Homo sapiens: one gene and its partners. The protein of the gene in region 3 interacts with the protein of the main gene of each other region in a biochemical or structural test. Each region holds a gene or a part of one and is shown on either strand. Other genes may lie near its edges.

Region 1 (7,177 bases), on a different chromosome or scaffold from region 3:
TATTTTTAGTCAAGACAGGGTTTCACCGTGTTAGCCAGGATGGTCTCGATCTCCTGACCTTGTGATCCTCCCGCCTCGGCCCAAAGTGCTGGGATTACAGGCGTGAGCCACCGTGCCCTGCCTGCCCTTGGACTATTGACTTAGGTATTCTCCATCATCTTGCACATTGCAAAGGTGGTTGTCGAATTTGGTGGAAAGGTTTAGTCCTTAGAACTCTGCTTTTCTCCTCAAGAGTTCCCTCCCTCAGAGATTCTATCTGTTCTCATTCATTCTATCTAGGTCCACCTCTATGTGGATGTCAGCTGATCTCCCTCAAAGGCACTTCTCCAGGATTTATTCTCTCTAGGTATAACATTTAGTTTTGCCTATACAGTTAATTTTGCTCCAGTCTTCCCAATTTCCCTTTCATCATCCACAGCACCATTGATTTCCTGATGCTGCACATTTCCAGTCTTGGAATTACCTTTGATTCTTCTTAAGCTTGTCACTTCCAAATTATTTTCCAAATTCTCTTCACCCTAACTCCACTGGGCCCATTAACTTTGTCCACTGTTTCCTCCTCTCCCTTCTCTGTCCCTATGTGACACCGGAGCCAGATTTTCTCTTTCGTTGGGTGTGTAAGTATCCGACTCGCCTCCTGCCCGGGCGTGTTGCCGGAGGATGTGGCCAGCAGGCTGAACACACATGACAACGTGAGGCTCAAAGTCAGGAAGGAATCCTTAGCGATTATTTTACAGTTGAGGGATGAGATGCCCGGGGTGGACAACCCTCTGGTTTCGGTCACAATCAGCCAGCCTCTCGCGCTCCAGCACCCCCTCTATTGCTTCGCCGTGGTCGGTGTCTTCTTTCCTTCACACCTTTGGTACAGACCCAGCCGGCACCGCGCGCAACGCCGCTAGAGCCCCTCAGAGCCCCAGCTCCCGACCACCCGCCGGAGAATTTCGAGTCCCTCAGGAAAGCAGCTCCCATTGGCCAGCCCGGCCCCCTCCCCGCACCTCATTGGCTACTGTCCTGCAGGTCCCGCCCTCTCGGCGCCTCAGGTTCCAGCGAGGGCGTAACGGCAGTGAAGTGAAAAATGGCGGGAAAGGCCGCCTCTGAGCTGGCCGTGCATCTGCGCAACGCTGGCTTGGGAGCCGGCCGGTGGTGGAGGAGCCCTCGACGACAGCCTCAAGGCCTGCCGCTCCTCACGCGCCCGGCTGCCACTAGACCATGGACGCAGGCAGCCGCGCGCTCCACCGCTCCGGGCCCGGCGCTCCACGCCGATCGGACGGGCGTCGCTCACACCACCGAGGCGAGCCCGGACACTGAAGCCACTTTGTTGTCCTCGGCCCAGGGCTGCAGGTTCTGCAGCGCGAAGAGCGACGAGTTGTGCAGGCAGAGAGGGTCCGGGGGCAGCGGCGGCCGCAGCGGCCGTGGCAACGCGTCCTGCTGCAGATGCAGGAGCAGCCGGCCCGCGCGGTGCCGCTCGGCCTCGCGCTCCTCCGCCGTCTGGCGCCTAAGGGAGGGAGACGCGGGGTCAGCGGGGCGCCCGCCGCGTCGCTTCTCACCAGGCCCTGCTCGGGAACCCCAGTCCGCCCTCGCCCGCGCCGCGCCTCACCGCCACTTGGTGCGTCGGTTCTGGAACCACGTTTTGACCTGTGCGTCGGTCATGCGCAAGGCCTTGGCCAGCGCCGCCCTCTCCGCAGAGGCCAGGTACTTCTGGCGCAGGAAGCGCCGCTCCAACTCCAGCACCTGTGAGCGGGAGAAGGACGTGCGCGGCTTCTTCCGCTTCGGAGGGGTCCGGTTTTGGTAGGGGTGGCCTATGCGGCGCGTCCCAGAGAAGGGCGAGAGCGCAGCTACCGGGAGGAAGAAAGACCAGGGCAGGATTTGCAGGGTGGCCCGAGGTGCCACTGAGAAGGCCGCGCGGCTGTCCAGGCCGCAGAACTCCCGCGCCCTGTCCTTACCCGGGCCCTAAGCATCAGCCGAGCCCTATAGCCAAGAAAGGCCCTTCCCCTGGGATGCGAGGGAGACGTCCCCTGTAACTTCACCCTCCCCTCCCCACGCGTGGACAGTGGGACTACAGAGGAGGGCGCGGGCACCGACGGCAGCTCCCTCCCCATCACCTCTCGGAGGCAGGACCCAGAGATTTGAGTTGGGGGAGGATCCCCTGGGAGGATCTAGTGGGAGGTGTGAAAGGGGTCCTTGAGTTGGAGCAGAAAGCTAAGAAATGAGGAGACGGGGTCAGAGTCGGGCGTGACGCTGGAGGGGTCAGACAACCTCACCCGTGAGCCGGTCCTTGGCAAAGCGGCGGCCGCTGTCCATCCAGGGGAAGGTGAGTCCCGCTAGGCCTCCGGCGCCGCCCAAACCCGAGGGCCCAGGCACTGCAGGCGCCCCCCCAGCGGGCGGCGGCACAGGCAGCGGGCGGTGCGCAGGGACGCGGATCACGCCGCCTGGGCCCACTCCGGAGCTGCCGGGCAGCGGGGCAAGTGAGCCGGCGGGACCGTAGCCCGAGGCTCCGTGGTATCCACCCGAGAACGCCCCATTCTCCCCATGACCCTGGCCCCCGCGACCCAGGCCTAGACCGCCCCCTGGGGTTTCGGGGCCGCTCAGGATCTGATCGATGCCGAAGCTGATTGGCTCGTGGTGTGGGAGGTTGTGTGGACCCAGCATCCCCGGCTCCATCGGTCTGGGCCGAGGAGAACCGCCGGAGGTTCGGTGGTTGGGGAGGATGCCTCAGGCAGCGCCAGAAGCCCAGCGGCGGCGCGCTCCGGAGAGTGGCCTCAGGGGCCCGCGGGGCTGGCCAAGGCAGGGCGCCGGGGTCCCCGAAACAGCAGCATCCCTGTGCACCCGGAGCAGCCGCGCCCGTGCCAGCCGCTGCCGGGCGTCAGCGCAGGGACTTGCATCCCGGGGGAGCACGGCCAGCTGGGGCCCCTGGAGCTTCCTTGCTGGCTCTTAAGCGCAAATAGACGCTGGGCTGCCGGCGCCGCTGCCCAAGTCCCGGGTGGAGAGGGTTGGCCAGCTCCGGCTGGGGCAGTGACTGACGGATCGGCCCGGGTGGGTAGTGGGGGCTGGGGGTAGGGCAGGGGCGGGGCCCAGCAGTTAAAGGGGAAGGGACGCCTGTTTGCGCCAAGCGCAGGGGGAAGGCTGGCTGGCGGAGATGTGCGGGGAGGGGGACAGGGGGCCAGGGTGTTAGGAGCCAGGCTCAGCGCGGGAGGGGCCCGAGCATGGGCCGCTGAGTCAGCGGAGATGCTCACCGCGCCTCCATCCTTGCTGGCCTCCGCCTTTGGGCGGCCTCCGCCTTTGGGCTGCCTCCGCCTCACCGGCTTCCTCCGCAGGTGCCTCCTCCCCCAGCCCCCACTCTTCGCCTCTCGATGGATCCTTCTGGCCAACTCCCGGATTCGTTGTGGTCCCCGCCTAAATGCTCTCGAAGACCAAATCTCGTTGTGGTTTCCCGGCTGCGTAAGAAGCGGCTGGGGAACGGCGCCCGGTGAGCTGCAGGCCCAGGAAGAGAACAGGTGTGGGAAGGGGACGGCAGGGGCTAAGGGCGGGGAACGGCCGCTTTGGGCTGGCGATCGTGGTGCGCCTTCTGGCCTCTCCTGTAGGTCCCCCCAGCCCTGTTCATGCGCACCGGTAATTGGTGTCCTGTGTTTCCTAGAATTTCGATTTTCCAAAATCCGTGTAAAACGGACCATGGCTCAACCCGGGCCAAATCAGGCCGGCGGGTTCTTGGGGCTGGCACTTACCCCCGGACCCCAAGTGCAGGGAGTCCTCAATGCAGGACTCTGCCCCTCCATTCTGTGCCTAGGAAGTCTGTTCTCACACTCTTCCTCCTCAACGGCGGGAGGGCGAAATCTCGCCACGGGGGACACGTGGGACCTCACTGAGGCCTTGGTTGGATCCTGGCCGCCTTGTTTCCCATAAACATTTTACCCCACCCAAACTCAAAAAATGGCCTGGAGCTGTCAGAGAAGGGAGGTGGGGAAAGACCTAAGCCGCTTGGTGACCTTGTGACCTCTGGCCATGAATCCAGGAGCCGGGAGTGCGTGAACTCTGCGTCCTTCCCGGGGATGGGACCCCCGCGGGCGGGCCCCTGAGCCTTAGACCCGCCCCCGCCGCCGCCCTGCCCGGTGCAGGCCGCGGTAATCGGGTTAGCTGGGCCGGAATTACATTACCTTCCCCGGCCCGCCCCGGCCCCCGGGGGGGCCCTGGCGCCTCTGAGCCGGTGAGACTGGGCTCAGAGAGGGGGGCGCTTCTACCATCCTGCGGTGGCGGTGGCGGGTGGGCACCAACGAGCAGCTCAGCCTACCTCTGACACGTGGTGGCCAAAGGACCTTACCCTGCTGTGCCAGCCCTCTACCCTCGTCCCGAGCCCACCCCGCTGTTCAGCTCCATCCTGCTGGTTCCCGTGTGAACCGAAATGCTTTGTAAGTCTACTAGCTGGATCTCCCTGGGAGCACTGATCTTCAAACTGATTCTCCAGGATCCCCTGGGAAAGACTCTGCCCCCTCCTTTCTCCCCAGCAGATGGGCTGGCAGCCTGGCGCCTGGGGCAGGGTGAAGGGGTCTTTTCTCCCCTGGGAACCAGGAATGATATTTGGGCATCTGGGCAGAAAGATAAAGAAGAGAAAGAAGGGTGAGCTCTGTCCACCAGCCCTTCAGTGTTCTCTGAAGCCTTATATCTAGAGGAGGTGAACCATAAATGGGACAGAGGGCAGTGGGAGGAATAGTGGGCATTAATATGTGTCAACCTGCCAGGCGCGGTGGCTCACGCCTGTAATACCAGCACTTTGGGAGGCCGAGGCGGGTGGATCACGAGGTCAGGAGATTGAGACCATCCTGGCTAACACGGTGAAACCCATCTCTACTAAAAATACAAAAATTAGCTGGGCGTGGTGGCGGGTGCCTGTAGTCCCAGCTACTTGGGAGGCTGAGGCAGGAGAATGGCATGAACCCGGGAGGTGGAGCTTGCAGTGAGCCGAGATCGCGCCACTGCACTCCAGCCTGGGCAACACAGCAAGACTCTGTCTGAAAAAAAAAAAAAAGTGTCAACCTCCCCCACCTTGACCACTCTACTATCCAATTTGTCCAGCCCCTCCTCAGCCCTGCTAACAGCCCGTTCTGAAAGAGGGTGGGGGCTCCTACCAATTTAGCAGATGTATTTTCATCTTGATGGAGAAGACAGACATTATCACCTCCCGTCTCTTTACAGAAACCCATGCACTTTTCTCAGCAGTAGAGAGGGCTACAAGGAAGCATGAACCTGTTTAGTCCAAATCTTCAGGCCGGGAGCAGTGGCTCATGCCTGTAATCCCACCACTTTGGAATGCCAAGAGGGGACGGATCACCTGATGTCAGGAGTTCAAGACCAGCCTGGCCAACATGGTGAAACCCCGTCTCTATTAAAAATACAAAAAAATTAGCTGGGCATGTTGGCAGGTGCCTGTAATCTCAGCTACTGGGGAGGCTGAGGCAGGAGAATCACTTGAACCAGGGAGGCAGAGGTTTCAGTGAGCGGAGATCACCACTGCATTCCAGTCTGGGGAAACAGAGCAAGACTCCATCTCAAAAAAAACAAACAAACAAACAACAACAAAAAAAACTTCCTTGGTACCAAGGGCTGGATTCCTCCAGATGGGAGCAGGAAACCTAGGGAGACAGCAAAGAAATATAATCTCTGAAGAGGGCTGGTGTGCAGGTTAGGAGTTTGCTAGTCCCATTCTCTGCTCTGAAGGTTGAGTCTGGGGGCAGGGGGGCAGGGTAACCAGTGTGTCTCCAGCCAACCTAAATAAATCCTCCTTGAATGAATCAGTGAGTGAATCAACAAATGAAAAAAAGGCAACATCATGCAGACCCGTACACCCCTGCCGTTTGAGTTCAGCACAGATGGTACTGCCACCCAGGGACTGTCCAACTAATCCTTTAAGGAGAATGGTCACAAACTCAGTAGTTCATACAAGTGTTCTGGAGAGTTTTTAAAATATTTTAGTGCCCCACTTCAAGAACAGATGGCATCCAGTTACGTCACCCAGACCACAGTCCTAGGACTTTCTCTTTTTTTAAGAGACAGAGTCTCGCTATGATGCCCAGGCTGGCTGGCTGGCCTCAAACTCCTGGGCTCAGACAATCCTCCCACTTTGACCCCCTGAGTATCTAGAGTTACAGGTGTGCACCACCACCCCAACCTGGCTTGAAATGTCCTTTCTTGCCTCCTTGTCTCTGATTCACGGGGAAAGGATGGTTCCTGCTGGTTTATATTCAAGATTGGCTAGGCGCGGTGGCTCATGCCTGTAATCCTAGCACTTTGGGAGGCCTAGGTGGGTGGATCACGAGGTCAGCAGATTGAGACCATCCTGGCTGACACGGTGAAACCCCGTGTCTACTAAAACTACAAAAAATTAGCCGGGCTTGGTGGCGGGCACCCGTAGTCCCAGCTACTCGGGATGCTGAGGCAGGAGAATGGCGTGAACCCGGGAGGCGGAGCTGGCAGTGAGCCGAGATCGCGCCACTGCACTCTAGCCTGGGTGACAAAGCGAGACTCCATCTCAAAAAAAAAAAAAAAAAAAAAAGACGAAGATAGAGGTGCTGGAATGAGTGCCCCCTCATACACACTGCTTTGGATCTGTCTCACCATGTCCTGTGTGTCCGTGGCTCTCATCAACTTAGTCTTTCCTACCCCTCAGCTGTCTCAGATCTTTATCATCTGGACAAAATCTTTGCCTGAGTCTTCAAGAGAGATCATGCTTTTCCTTTCCTTTTTACTTCATGCCTACTGCCTCCATTTCATCATGATTTATTCTTGTTTTAACTCAGTGCAAGCTGCCTTCATTATAGTAACCCTTTCTCAGAGAGCTCCAGTGTTCAGTATCCCTCCTCCAGGACTTCCCTGGCATGTTTTACTTTGTTGGTCATCAATTATTTTTTGAAGTGTCCCTTCTTTTTGCTTCTGTAATATCTTATTCCACATCTTTGGACTTTCGTAGTCACTGCTTATGTTTTTCCTCCACTGATTTTCCTTCTTCCACTGAAGACTGTGAGGATTCTTCAGAGCTCAGACTTAAGCTTTCTTTTTTCTTTTCTTTTTTTTTTTTTTTTAAGACATGGGATCTCACTCTGTCGCTCAGGCTGGAGTGCAGTAGCATTATCACGGTTCACTGCTGCCTCAACCTCCCAGGCTCGAGCAATCTTCCTAACTCAGCCTC
Region 2 (7,024 bases), on a different chromosome or scaffold from region 3:
CACACACGCACACAGACTGGCACAAGCTAGCAGGGCATTTCTGGAAGTGATCCAAGTCCTCCTTATCTGCTCACCACCCCATGTCCATTGACGAAATAAAATGTAAAAGTTCACAAAGCAAACAAATCGTCTCCCACTTACTGGCTGATGCTTGAAATGCTTCCTTTAGAGAACATTTTTATAGTTCATAAAGAAAAATCTTAGTTATGAGAGACAAATCAATGCTGTCAGATCACGCACAAATATACTCCTGGAAGGAGCCGGGGGAGATCAGGGCACCCCAGAGGGTGCTGCAGAAGAACAGGGGTGGGGGCAGGGGAGAGACAAATTGCATTGTGTTCAAAATTTGTTCTGGTGCCATCTGTACAGTATGGAGATGTCGCTCACTGACCCTTCACTCAAGACACTAGACAAATTTTGGTAAAGCATGAACATTTATATTTAATTTACATTTTGACAATTTGCACATAAATAACATTGTAAACCAGTATGTAAACATAAGATAGTTTGTTGTTCTAGCAAAGTAAAAAGCCAGTAACTTTGGTCAGTTTTAACTTTGAGTAGAGGAAAAAATAAAACCACTGTTGATTGTGGGCTCAACATTCACATGTAAGAGGCAGAAAAGAGAAGGATGGATGGTGAGAGAAGCAAGAAGTCTTTATAAAAATTCTCACTATGGGAAAGCACAAAAGGAGAAAAAGAACAAACGAGTAGTTGGGAATCAAAAGTATTTGGTCTAATGTCAACGTGATGCTTTGGTTTACCTTCAGTTAAGGACTGTGTTTATCAAACACTGATACATAAAAAGCTGTCAGTCTTGGAAGTTACAGAAGACCAGTAAGGCTCTTGGGTTTCCCTGGATTATTCGAAATTTGTTCTCTTCTACAGGTGAACATTAGTTGATGTGAACAAAATGTCAAATATAATTATAAAATAGATTGGAGTAATGTATCAGTATTTAGTAAGGAGGAAAACAGAAAAATTGCAGCGGTAAAGTCAGTTTTTTATTTCTGTGACTTGGGTGTGACCACATAATCATAAAGTGGCAAAAAAAAAATAGAGCTGTCTTAGATGGTCCTTAATACTAAAAAATGATGTATCTCTTCCTCCCTGGTTGTTTTGTGGTCCCCACCACTGCACCAAGGTTTTAGGGTCTCTTACAGTAGGCAAGGGTGCCCAATCATACCGACGTGATTGTGAGGTCACCAAGTATTAAGCAAAGTCTCAGAAAGGAGTGTTCTTTTTTTTTTTTTTTTTTTTTTGCCCTTAGAAAAAGTAGATCTTTTACATGGCTTGGCTCACAATTTAAGTGGTTATAAATATATATACATATGATATAGTGGTATAAATAGATTTATAAATATACATCATTTTTTGCTACACTTTGAACACCAACATGTAATCTTTGGGCTTAGCAGAATAAAAGATAGAATAACACAAAGTCTATCTTGCTGGAGCACATTTACTCGGTTTCTCCTCTAGAGAAGCAAATCATTAGATAAGACATCATTTCCTGCACTACTGGACACACTCAATGAGGTAACTGTTGTTGAACAACTTTGCAATGCCCTTTCATCTTCCATTAAATTAACCATAAAATGTAAAAACACAAATACTGAGGAAAATCTGAGTTTTACAGAAAAAATACAATTGATGTGTTGGGGATAGGAATGTTCATTACCCGCTTTTACCCCAAGATGACTAGAATACCCGTTTTTTGTTGTTTGTGTGTTTGTTTTTAAAGTGTGGCCTGAGCCTATCTACCTCGAATCCTTCCTGGTAGAGCACCATGTTTGTGCAATTTTGACATTAAAAAAAAAAAAAAAAAAAAAGCAACAAAAACCAACAACAAAACACCACCCAGACTCAAGCCCCCAAATCGCACACACACAAAGCCACCTATGCTTTGGGGAAATTTTCGCAGTGGTTTTAAAACATGGCATTTTTTTCTTCTTCACATTTTCTGATAATACAATGGATGCAAAAGTCATGTGGCCGCTCTGAATGGCCACAGGACTCGGTGGGGAGGGCAGGGCGGTGGGAGGATTCTGCTCTTTTGGAGGGAGAGACAGGTTGGTAAAGCCTTCCTGTCACCCTTCCGGTAAAATTGTGGCTGGGGGAAAAACATGAACTATCAACAAAAATATACAAGATTCCCTTTCTTGTTTCTTCTACTTAAGTTATTCTTGGGTAATCCTGCACACATACCCCCAAGTTATGTACAATGCTGTTCAAATGATAGGATCCCAGGAATGAACACATCAACTGTCCAACATTGGCAATTACCCAAACCTCATTTTCAAACCATTATTAGAGAGAGAGGTTGACTGAAGTCATATATTTGTTTAACTAAATCTTAGGTACTTATACAGATGTGCAGAAATTATCTACAAAGAATGGCCACAAGACAAAAATACATTTATACTCAAATTACAAGGAATCTTTCCAGTCATTGTAAACTTTTTTAATTATTGCTTTCTGAATGATAAATTGTATAATAAATTATGAAGGATTATCATTGAAAAAATAATTATGACTAGGTAATAGTCTTAGTAATGGGAAGGCTATGCAAACATGTCCACACAAATATTCAAAATACACAGGGGCAAATATATAGACACAGGTGTAAATAAGTATATATAATATGTATACAGATATATATATATATATATATATGGCCTTTGCCTTGTTCATGCCCTGAGATTTCAGTAACTTTGGAGTTCCTTCTTTAATTCCAGAGGTGAGGGGAAACCATTTGCTGTCGAGAGAGCTTTGCAGAGCTGGGATTATGTACAAGCCACTTCCTACAGGCACCCTGACTCACCAAGTCATAACTTAAGAAACAAAATAAGTGTTTTCTGAAAATCTTAAGGATCCATTGGTTCAACTGTTTCTTGTTTGACCTTTACAGGTACCAGAGGTAGTGGGTTGCTGGGAGGCAACTTCATGAGGGGTAGATCTGATGACTCATAAAGGCTGCACCCTGAGGAGAGGAGTCCATTCCCCATGTTTCTTTGCAAAGACACTTTCAGGCCAGTTTCTTCTTTCTCTTTTCTGACCACGGCCAGAATTTCCTTCTCCACTACAGAGATCACACTGATGTCATCCTCCACGTCCTCGAGCCGGTCAGCATTGTCACTGATGTCAAACTTCTCGATTTCTTCATTGATTCGGGTCAGATCTTCCAAGGGCAGCCCAGGCGCCGGGGCCGCAGCGCAGTTCCCTTTCAGGTGAACCTTGAGGCTACAGAGATGGATGTAGTTCTTGTGGCACTGGGAGCACTTGTGGGGCCGCTCCCGGGTGTGCAGACGCTTGTGCAGTTTCAGGTGCACAAACTGGGTGAACTTGGCAGGGCACACCTTGCATTGGTATGGTTTCTCTCCAGAATGGAGTCGCAGGTGGGTCTTGAGATTGCTGGTGCTGCTAAATCTCTTGTGGCAGACCTACAGTGTAGGGGAGAGAGACAGCAGGGAAGGGAGACAGGAAGGCCAGAAGATTAAGAGTTGCCAACGGGAGGGGCAGGCTTACCGGCCAACGCCCAGCAACCTAGGAGGTGAGAAGCCTCCTTGTGGCACCTCCAGTGTGGTATTAAGCAAACGGGGGGATGTGGGCACACAGCACACGAGGGGCTGTTTATTTCCCCTACCATTTTCCCACCCACTGGAAGCTGGCTGTGCCATCTCAAGTCATCAGCAGATACAAAGTACTGGGAAGGACCATAGTGCCATCAGTCCAGGATGGGACAACGCAGAATCTGGTGTTGGCTTTAACTACGGGCTATATAGGACATGGGAGGGTGACTCACAGACATTTTCTACAAAGGTCAGAAGGTCTACCCAGAAAATACTGCGCACCTGGCATTCATGTGGCTTTTCTCCCGTGTGTACCAGGTAGTGTTTCTGCAGGTGGGCGAGCTGAGTAAAGCCCTTGTTGCAAGTCTGACATTTGAAAGGCCGTTCTCCACTGTGCACTCTCAGGTGGACCTGGGAAGAAGCCACATGTGTTAGCTCTGCTCTCAAGCTGGCTCTGAGACCTAACATTTCTGCTCCAAGACTCAAGTGTTGATGCAAATATCTTAAGAAAAGCATCAAGACAGTCTTAAAAAGAAGAAATCTTCATGTTTTCAGAATGGTGTTTTTCTTAAAAGCACAAAAATCACAGGCTAGCAGGGAGTTTCACCTAATCTTCTAGTCCAAACCCCTAATTTTTTTATTATTCAGAAGAAAATCAGGAGAAGGGAAGTCACTTGTCCAAAGTCAAAGAGCTAGAAGTGGCAAAAGCCAGGCGGAATCCATACCCACTATCCCCAACCGGGGGCTCATACTACTGCAAATGCAATCGATACCCCATGGAAAGCAAGCTAAATACAAACACAAGCATGCACTCACAGCCCCTTGGACTGCTCTCTCTCAAGGCCTACCTTCAGATTGGAGAGCTGGCCGAAAGTCTTGGCGCAAACGTTGCATTCGTACTTGATCTTGCCGTTCTGCTTCTTCAGCGGGTAGGGAAGGGTCTTGTAGCCGGTCATGTTTCTTTTGTTTTTAATGAGATTCATGGCTTCGTCGCTGCTGGGGGCTGCCATCGCTGCTGAGGTAGCTTTGGGCTGCACCACATGTTCTGCCGTGGCGGCTGTTCCCGCCGTGGGAGACCCGCTTGTGGGGCTACAGGCCTTGTCCTTCATGCTGGCGGCGGCCCCGGTAAAGGAGAAGGCACTGTGGGGCGCCGGGACAAGCACCTCCCTGGGATGCTCCGGCTGGAGCAACCTCCGGGCTCCATCTGAGGGCAGCGAGCTCGGGAGAGAAGTGGGGTTGAGCATGGGGTGGGGCAGGCTGCCCCCACCGAGGAGATTGCTGTAGACAGGGCACAGCCTCGGGAAGAGGCCAAAGTTGTTGATGCCATTCATGCTGCTCACAGCGCTCAGGCCATTACAATTCATGCCGTAGGGGGGCAAGAGGAACTTGGGGTAGTGAGCGTTGTACGAGGGGATGAAAGCTGGCGGGAGGTGGGGCAGGGGTGCGTAGCCAGGGTAGGAGCCCAAACCTTCCGTGCCGTAGGACGCGTTCAAGTAAGCGTAGGAGTCCCGGTGCTCTTGAGAGCCGGGGCCCACAGGGGACACCGTATTCCCAGGGCTGCTGTGAGGGCTGGAGCTCTTGAGGCTTTGGTCGGGGCTGCTTCTTGCAGAGGGGCTTGGAGTGGTGGAGGATGGAATGGGGGAGCGAGTGATGTACGTGGGTCTCTCGATCCCGTAGGCCAGGGAAGCTTTCAAAAAGTCTTCTGGCAGAGGGGCCCGGATGGGGTAAACGACCCGAGGGTAGAAGGGCATTTCGGGGCTCCCACGTCTTCTAAAGTCATCGAGGTCCTTTTCTGATGTGAGGGGTGAAATGTTAGAACGGTAGAGGTCCTTTCCTTTGGAGGGGTTGGAGTCCAATTTTAGGATTTCTTTCACGCTGTACTCTCTCTTTGGGACATTCTTTGGGCAGAGTTCATTTTTCTCAGTGCTCGGTTGCTTTAGACTGCTCTGTGTTTGTGCTGAAATAAAGAAAAAGGGGCGATTACACAGAGGGCTAGAGAGAACTGAAGCAAAACTGCCAAAGTTGCTCCTCCTTCTTGAGAAAACCTGAGTAACAGCTGGCGACACAATCGCCACATATCTGGCTTCCAACGCACTCTCATTCTAGAAGGCTCTGGGCCACTCACTCAAAAGTGCAGTTCCGTTTCCTCCTCAGCAAAATGCGGACAATGGCAGCACAGACAGAACAAACAGCAGCCTTGGGTGATTCTGTTTTCATTAGTACAGACCTTATGATAGAAAATTGCTGTTTAGGCTGGAGTAAGATAGCCTAAGCTGGATGCAGTGGCTCTTGCCTGTAATCCCAGCACTTTGGGAGGCCGAGGTGGGCGGATCACCTGAGGTCGGAAGTTCGAGACCAGCCTGACCAACATGGAGAAACCCCATCTCTACTAAAAATACAAAATTAGCTGGGCGTGGTGGCGCACACCTGTAATCCCAGCTACTTGGGAGGCTGAGGCAGAAGAATCGCTTGAATCTGGGAGGTGGAGGTTGTGGTGAGCCGAGATTGTGCCATTGCACTCCAGACTGGGCAACAAGAGCAAAACTCTGTCTCAAAAAAGAAAAAAAAAAAAAAAACTTCCATTTTAATGGAGTGGAAAAATACTGGGGTGGGGACCCTGTCATAGGTTAATAAAAGTCTTTCTGATGTTCATGGTTTACCTAAAGGAAATCAGCATACCCTGAGAACTAAATGTGAAAGATTAAGACTCATTTCAAGTAATACACAGTCATCAATTTTCGCTTCTACTCTTGTTGAATACGAATTTGATAAAGCCCTGTTCAAACTGCCTATGCCAAGGAGCTTAGCGAAGTGAATACCACCTTCCTCGCGATGTGCAGACAGCCTAAGCACTTCACCAAGGCTCTGTCTGGTCTAGCCAGGATCCCAGCAGTGCTGGCCCCTGGAGTCACAAGGCGTGACAGTCACCTCTGCCAAACCACAATAGGTACTTCCTGAGCCAGTTCAATTACTTAGCGCACCCAAGAAAACAGAACAGGCTAAGAGGAAAGCACTTATTCCCAAAGACGGCACGTTATTACTTGGTAAAGATACTATTTAGGAACAGCAGCAATGAGGACAGTTCTAGACTATCCCTGCCACAGCCAGCCCTGTCTCCTCGCTACACAATAAATGATGCCTTCAGGAAAAAACACCCATCTGGGCAGGGAAAACTGAAAATTCCCTGCTCAGCCTTGCCTGGAAACCAAAAGTAAAACATACGATGTTTAGTTTGAGCTCTGATTATTGGAGGACAGTCACTCAAGCCAGGACACCTGCCCTAGGAACGCACTGAAGGCATTGGCTGTCAATGTGTGGAGATGCCTTCAGAGGCAGCAGGTTTGGGGGATCATGCTGAAGCCTTTGTGCAAATATCCTTCATCGTCTAAAAAATGTCTCTGCTTGAATTTAGTTGAGAAAGAACTCCACACTTGCTATCTGATAGGTCTAGA
Region 3 (7,024 bases):
CAAAGTGCAGGGATTACAGGTGTGAGCCACCGTGCCCGACCTTGATGACTTTCTTTCTCAGTTCCTGTAATTACTCCCACAGGTCACAGAAAGTGGAAGGCTACCACCTCCCTTTGTGATGTAAATGATGTGCCATCATTTACATGCCATCCTTCCTGTTCCTTTGGACAACTGGATCCAAAATCCTCAAGGTTCAAGTCAGGCTACTACTTAACGTTTGAATCCCCTCTACAACCCCACACCAAGTGGCCCTCCAGGCTATATGCCTCCAGCAGCAGGGAACTTACCACCTGTCTTAGGCTCATTTCCATTTTGCTCCATCGGGAGGAATGGTTAGGGCCCCTAGCCCGCCAAGACTTGCAATCCCAACTGCAGGTGGTGTTGGGCTTTGTTTAACTGTGGACTGATGGTGTCACTGGGGCCTTTGATTTCGGCCCATTCACCTTGGAGGATTCTTAGGCCACCTTAGGGCTCTGTTTTCAGTGGTGCCCAACAATGCCACTATAGACCTGAGAGAGTCCCTGTCAAATGTACTAGCAGGAAGTCACTGCTAGTGGGATCATGTGGGGCCCCAGCTTAATTCCCTCATCATTTAGTCTCCCCAGCTGTGGAATGAGACTGACTGAAAGCTTAGGGACACTAACTAGTCTTTTAGAATATCTACCCCTAGTCAGGATGATAGTGATGTTGGCCCAAATTCCTTTGGGGGTTATACTTTTTCTTTTTTTCAAACAAGGTCTTGCTCTGTGACCCAGGCTGGAATGCAGTAGTACGATCATAGCTCACTGCAGCCTTGACCTCCTGGGCTCAAGCCATCCTCTCGCCTTAGCCTCCCAAGTAGCTGGGACTACGGATGTGCAGGCCACCACATCTGACTAATTAAAAAAAATTATTTTTGTAGAGACGGGGTCTCGCTATGTTGCCCAAGCTGGTCTCAGACTCCTGGCCTCAAGCAGTCTTCCCGCCACCTCAGCCTCCCAAAGCATTGGGGTTACAGGCGTGAGCCACCATGCCCCACCTGATTATACTTTTCAAAGTGCTTTAGCCCCTCTATGGTATTTGACTTCACAGCAGCTCTCTAAATGCAGTTACTTGAGGGGAAATCCAAGGGGGAGAAGGAGATGTCCCCTGCTCAGTGAGGTCTGTCACAGTGTCTTCCCTCCTCCCCGTGGGCCCTGTGTGGCACCAGTAGAGTCACCAATGGCGAAAGCCAGTGTGGATCATCCCAAGGGCCTGGGAGCAATGTGAGATTTTTTCATTTGATGTGAACAGACACAATAACGGTTCACATTTATTGAACCTTTTCTGTGGTGAGGTATTGTGCCAAATCCTCTAAATATATTCCTTCATCTAATTCTTACGACCGCTCCATGTGAGAAGTACAGCCACCTCCATTTTACAGATGAAGAAACTGAGGTTCAGACTGGTGAAGTGACTTGTCCAAAGTCATGTGGACTTGGGGCAGGAGCCTGGACACGAGCCCAGCCTGCAGGCTTGCAGGCTCCTAACTACCAGCCTGTGCATCACCTCTCACTAAAAACAAAACCCAAGCCACGTACCCCGCAAACGCTTCATATCTGACTTGTGTGGAGGTGACAAAACCGATTCCTGAAGCTTTGTGTCTGGTGGGTGTGAGACACTCTCGCAGCTGCTCCCCAGTGTGAGGGCTGCCTCAGTCTCTCACCTGCCCTTTGAGGAGGTAGCAGGCTGAACAGTGTTCAGAACTCAGTGTGTCCTCAAATCAGCCAGGTGGGTTTGCCTGTAGGTGCTCAGAACCATTCGGGTTCCACTGACATCAGGGGCTTGGCTCTAGCCTCTCCCAATTTTTGAAGAACTAGACTCCCACATTTGCTCCCTCTAGCCACCAACAACTCTTCTCTACTTCCCTTCAGATTAATTGGGGTTGGGGAAGAAAATGTTCATTGCCCATGAAAATTATCTTGGAGAAGTTGGCTTCAGTAGCCTCTTTATAGGCTTGGGGGCTGCTTGGACAAGGAGGTTCTGTGTGTGTAGAGGGGCCCATGAATATTACCATTTGTTATTTTTAGTTTTTCCAGGAAATTTGTAATCATGTATCATTTTTTATTCTCTCCCCTCTTCCTCCTTCTCCTCACCCCATTCACTTGTGTCCCTCTTTTATTTCTCTTACTTCCTAATTCTTATATCATGCTTGCATGTCTTACATTCATCCTTCAAGACATGATTTGAATGTCACCTCTTCTAGGAAGCCTCCCATGATGTCTCCAGGCAATTTAGCAATTCCTCTGCTGCCCCTTGTGTATATCTTTATAACAGCTCTTAGAAAGTGAATGTCATTATTTACTCAAACATCTCCACTTCTTCACTGGATGGCAGGTAAGTCCCTGGAGAAAAGAACCTATGTATTCCATAGCTTAGCGTAGTGTTTGGCACATAGTAGGTGCCTGTATAATAGTTACAGAAGGAAGGAATGTTTCTTAAGCTTTTATGTCTCGTGTGACTTTAAAACAAAAATAACAACTGGGTGCGGTGGCTCACCCCTGTAATCCCAGCACTTTGGGAGGCTGAGGCGGCGGATCACGAGGTCAGGAGATCAAGACCAGCCTGGCCAACATAGTGAAACCCCGTCTCTACTAAAAATACCAAAAAAAAAAAAAATTAGCCAGGTGTGGTGGCGGGCACCTGCAGTCCCAGCTACTTGGGAGGCTGAAGCAGGAGAATGGCGTGAACCCGGGAGGCGGAGCTTGCAGTGAGCCAAGATCGCGCCACTGCACTCCAGTCTGGGTGGCAGAGCGAGACCCCGTCTCAAAAAGTTAAATAAATAAATAAATAAATAAAACAAAAATAACAATAACAACAATCTCTTGAAGAGGCTGTTGTATTTGTAAAACGTCCCTTCCTCAGCATCTTGAGAAACTTTCTGGACCTCTGTCTTTTGAGAAGTTTCCAGTCTGCCTTTCCTGCCTCCTTCTCCTTTCTGAAGAAATTCTCATTGAATACAGAGAGGCAGCACAGACTGGAAATGCTGCATAAAGCTTAAATTGGGCAGGGCCCAAGCGTTGTTGGGTCTTTGGAGACAATGGCTCCTGAGAATTTTTTTAGGCTTTCCAGGAACTACAGAGAGTTGCTTCATGTCAGGAACACAAATTCTTAAAGAGCTAGTCACCAAGTATGGGGGGCCAACCCATTCTTGGAAAGGTCTCTCGCTCTAAGCAGCAAACAGCTCTCATGTTGCTTCTTCCAATCTATTCATGTAATGCTCCCAACAAAAGCACAAACACCACAATATGAAATGAACACCTAAAACCATTCCTTTCACCAGCCCAGGGACATTGAGACAATAAATACTGAAACAATCACTTCAGAGCAGTGTGTAACAGAAGACAAGAGTCATTTTAAAAAGCAACAGGGAAAAAACCCAACCCAGAAACCCAGATAGTGGTGGAAATTAACATCTTGATAAAGACAGAGAAGCCTAGATAAAGCCAGAGGATAGTGTGTGGGGAGAGTGAAAACCGATACAAATTTTCCAGGAAAAGGATTGGATCAAAGTAATGAAAGTGTAATGTCAAAGAATACTTTCCTAAAATACAGACAGTATGTCATTCCTACTCTTGTTATTCATAGGCAGTTCAAACTTCTCTAGACGTACTTCAAAACAAAAACCTTTTAGAATTATTGGGTGGGAGAAATCTTGGGACAGAAAAAAAACTTTGGGATGGGAATGGGGATGACAAGAATTGATGGGTCAGAGTTCCAAATGCAGATGCTTTTCCTGTGCCCTGCCTTAGCCAGAAATAGCTTCTTCATGAGCAGGGCCACCAGCTGAGGTCCCCACACTCTACCAGTGTTGGTAAATGTGGGTAAACACCTTAAATTGCCTCAGGATTCAATCCCTCCCACTATCCTCCAAGAACAGGGTGAAGTTCTGAATATATCTCTCTATACAAATGCATTCTATTGTTGATACTTTTTCCAGAGAGGAGGAAATTAACAGTAATAGTAATCAATATTATTGACTGCAACGAAATGTCTTCTTTGGAAATTGACTGATGGTCACGTATCAAGGGGAGATGCTGGGTTTTCTCTCAGGGAAGACATTTCACTCTGTCACCTACTTGGTTTCAAAGAGAAGGAGGTGGAAGGAGGGGCCAAAAAGTTTAAGGTATGCTGCATACACTGACAGGCTCCTCAGAGCAACTGGCTGGGTAGCAAGGGGGCTGTGACTGAAGAACATGACAGAAGCCAATCCATTGTACAGCAACCACCAAGGCCAAATCTACTTGCCACCTTCCTCATATCTGCCAAGTGCTCACAAGGCCTTGTCGATGAAAGGGAAACTGAGGCAGCCAATGGGGTGAGAGGGCAAAGGTCACTTCAGGTTGAGGCAGAGGCAGGATGAAAACACTTACGTCGGAGGATCTCTCGTTGCTTTCTGACGTACCAGGTGTACAGAGCGGCACGCTTCTGGGTCTTCATAGGGGTGCCCTTGTTGAGATGCTGGGAGAGGTGCGACTGGTTCAGGCCGGTGACATCGACCACCTCCCTCTGGGGGATGTTGTGTTGCTGCATGTAACCCTTGATCATTTTAGCAGCCCTCCAAGGGTCCTCACTAGACAGACAAGCAGATGGTTAGGGTACTAGTGGGAGACATCTGGGGAGAAACATTCTTTTTCTAGGGGGTGCTACCTATGGTCTATGCAAAATTCTGAATTTTCCCCCCATCTAAGCTACAACTTTGGGGTAGACATGAGGCCAAAATGGAAGCTAAACAGAGGAGAAGGTGACTGCCCCTGTACGGTACACCTCATCCCTTTCTTCTGAGGTTAGTGGGCAAAAGAGGACTTCCCATCTTCAGGAATAAAAAAGCACCACCACCACTCTCTCTTATTAAGCAAAAAGAAAAGCTCTTGTTTTATTTAATTAATTAATTAATTTATTTATTATTATTTTTTTTGATGTGGAGTTTTGCTCTTGTCACCCAGGCTGGAGTGCAACGGCATCTTGGCTCACTGCAACCTCCACCAGGATCCTGGGTTCAAGCGATTCTCCTGCCTCAGCCTCCAGAGTAACTGGGATTATAGATGCCCAGCACCACACCCAGCTAAATTTTTTATTTTTAGTAGAGATGGGGTTTCACCATGTTGGCCAGGCTGGGCTCACACTCCTGACCTTAGGTGATCCATCTGCCTCGGCCTCCCAAAGTGCTGGGATTACAGACGTGAGCCACCGCGCCTGGCCATTTTATTTTGCTTTCCTCCATTTTCCTGCAATGTGGGAGATTTAAAAGGCAGGAGGCCCACTGGAAAGTGGGGATGCCTTTAGCTTGGGGCTGGACTCCCTGATCCTACAATGAAGTAGGGATAGCATCAGTTTCTGAATTTGCCCAATTTTAGCTTCAACCTCTCCTACATTATTTTCCTTTTGAATGGGTATCTCCATTTCTTATAAAACAGGGGTGAAATGTATGTGTTCACCTTCTAAGAAGCAAGGAGGATGTCTTAGCCAAATAGTAAATAATTTTCAGAGTTTTAGAAAAGTTTTCCAAAATACAATGTTGTATCTCCTTGGGACGGGAGGATCACACCACTGAGGTGAGGCAAGTAGTTAAAAAAAAAAAAAATCCACAGCTCCACCTTCCAGACAAAATCTACTGGGCTAATGGGGACAAATAACTTCAATTTCGGACATTAACAATTTTAGATGCTTGTTTTCCTGTATTATGTTTCTCATAAATTTTAAATACTGGATAAGAACATGGTTATACTTTTCATTTCTCATAAACACAGGTGTGTAAACTGCTAGTTTTAGCACCTTTGAATTTTATTTGTCTAGAATGGTTTCAACTTTGCCAATATCTTTTCTTGCTTATTGAACAGATGCTTTGAAAAGAGAGATATAATTTAAAACTAGAAATTAAAATAGTGTGCAGCACAGAACAAAAGTACTAAAGAAGCAATATATACATGTTTACTATTTATTTAATGCAGGTACATATTTAACTTACAAAAACCAGCACCCCATTACTGTATGTTGATATATATATTAGCTTGATAGAACAAGAAAAAAAACGGAAGGGAAAACTAGTTTCAGGTGAAACAAAAAAGAAAACGGTGTAGAGGCTGAAATAGATACAGCATTGCAACATAATAAGCAATTTTATTTCTAAATGGCGCCTTTAAATATGTCAAATAAAATTAATTCTGTTTAATGAATAAAAATCCAGTAATCGAACATATTTTATAAGCATTTGGGTAGTTGTGATTATTTTATTAAGACTTTGATATTAAACTCGTGAGAACACAGGCTTTGATAGAGATGTTTTTGAGAAATGCAAACTTTTTATATTAATTATATATAAGAACGAATTTCTCAAGTATTTACAAAGGTAATTTCCAAGTACACAATATGAGGAAGTAACAAGAAGAACAAAAAATGAGAAAACGAGTTACAGTTTCAAACGTGGAGAATTCACATTAAGAGGAAAATAATGTAATAAACGTTTTAGACATATCCTTGTAAACATCACAGATCATTTAAAAGTTTATTTCTGGTCAATATTTCCACCGATATTTTTAGGATGGAAAAATACTTTCAACGGCTACGAACAAGACTCCTCGAACCTTAGGGGAAAAATTGCATTTTAAAAGTGAATATTGCTTTAGCAAATTCTTCGGCTATTTTTCTTTTGTTTAAATGCCTTTACCTGTGTTCATTTTGTATGCCTAAGAAACCTAGAAAAATAGGGTACTGTTCTAAGTGGGAATGATTCTGTGGAAACAGTGAATTAGCCCAACAATTGGGGAGGGTTTAAAAAAAGCCCCCAAGAACCTTATAAATAATGGCAAAACCTTTTAAGTCCGACTTAAAAGAGTGAGGAGTAAGATGGCGCAGTTATACCTTCACAACCCTCTGACCCCAAAATTCACGTGTGTTCACCGGGAAGAGCCGGGAGAGCTGGTTATTTTTGTTTGTTTGTTTGAAAACACAGCTCAGGTTCAGAGGTTCCCTAACACCGAGAAAGGCACCGGTCCCGAAGAGGGCC

The links.
Region 1: the proteins of HNF1B (region 3) and TLX2 form a complex in vitro, tested with the Homo sapiens proteins (one study listed by BioGRID).
Region 2: the proteins of HNF1B (region 3) and PRDM1 form a complex in vitro, tested with the Homo sapiens proteins (one study listed by BioGRID).

Annotation. Positions count from the first base shown.
Region 1 is NC_000002.12:74,510,291-74,517,467, reverse strand, and holds TLX2 (T-cell leukemia homeobox protein 2), read right to left. Parts: upstream 3,019-7,177; 5' UTR 2,662-3,018; coding exon 2,262-2,661; intron 1,836-2,261; coding exon 1,598-1,835; intron 1,496-1,597; coding exon 1,279-1,495; 3' UTR 320-1,278; downstream 1-319. UniProt on the Homo sapiens protein: Transcription activator that binds DNA elements with the consensus sequence 5'-CGGTAATTGG-3'. Binds DNA via its homeobox. Required for normal cell death of enteric neurons in the gastrointestinal tract.
Region 2 is NC_000006.12:106,103,330-106,110,353, reverse strand, and holds the end of PRDM1 (PR domain zinc finger protein 1), read right to left. Parts: intron 5,530-7,024; coding exon 4,421-5,529; intron 3,984-4,420; coding exon 3,855-3,983; intron 3,444-3,854; coding exon 2,868-3,443; 3' UTR 416-2,867; downstream 1-415. UniProt on the Homo sapiens protein: Transcription factor that mediates a transcriptional program in various innate and adaptive immune tissue-resident lymphocyte T cell types such as tissue-resident memory T (Trm), natural killer (trNK) and natural killer T (NKT) cells and negatively regulates gene expression of proteins that promote the egress of tissue-resident T-cell populations from non-lymphoid organs.
Region 3 is NC_000017.11:37,735,049-37,742,072, forward strand, and holds part of HNF1B (hepatocyte nuclear factor 1-beta), read right to left. Parts: intron 4,592-7,024; coding exon 4,392-4,591; intron 1-4,391. UniProt on the Homo sapiens protein: Transcription factor that binds to the inverted palindrome 5'-GTTAATNATTAAC-3'. Binds to the FPC element in the cAMP regulatory unit of the PLAU gene. Transcriptional activity is increased by coactivator PCBD1.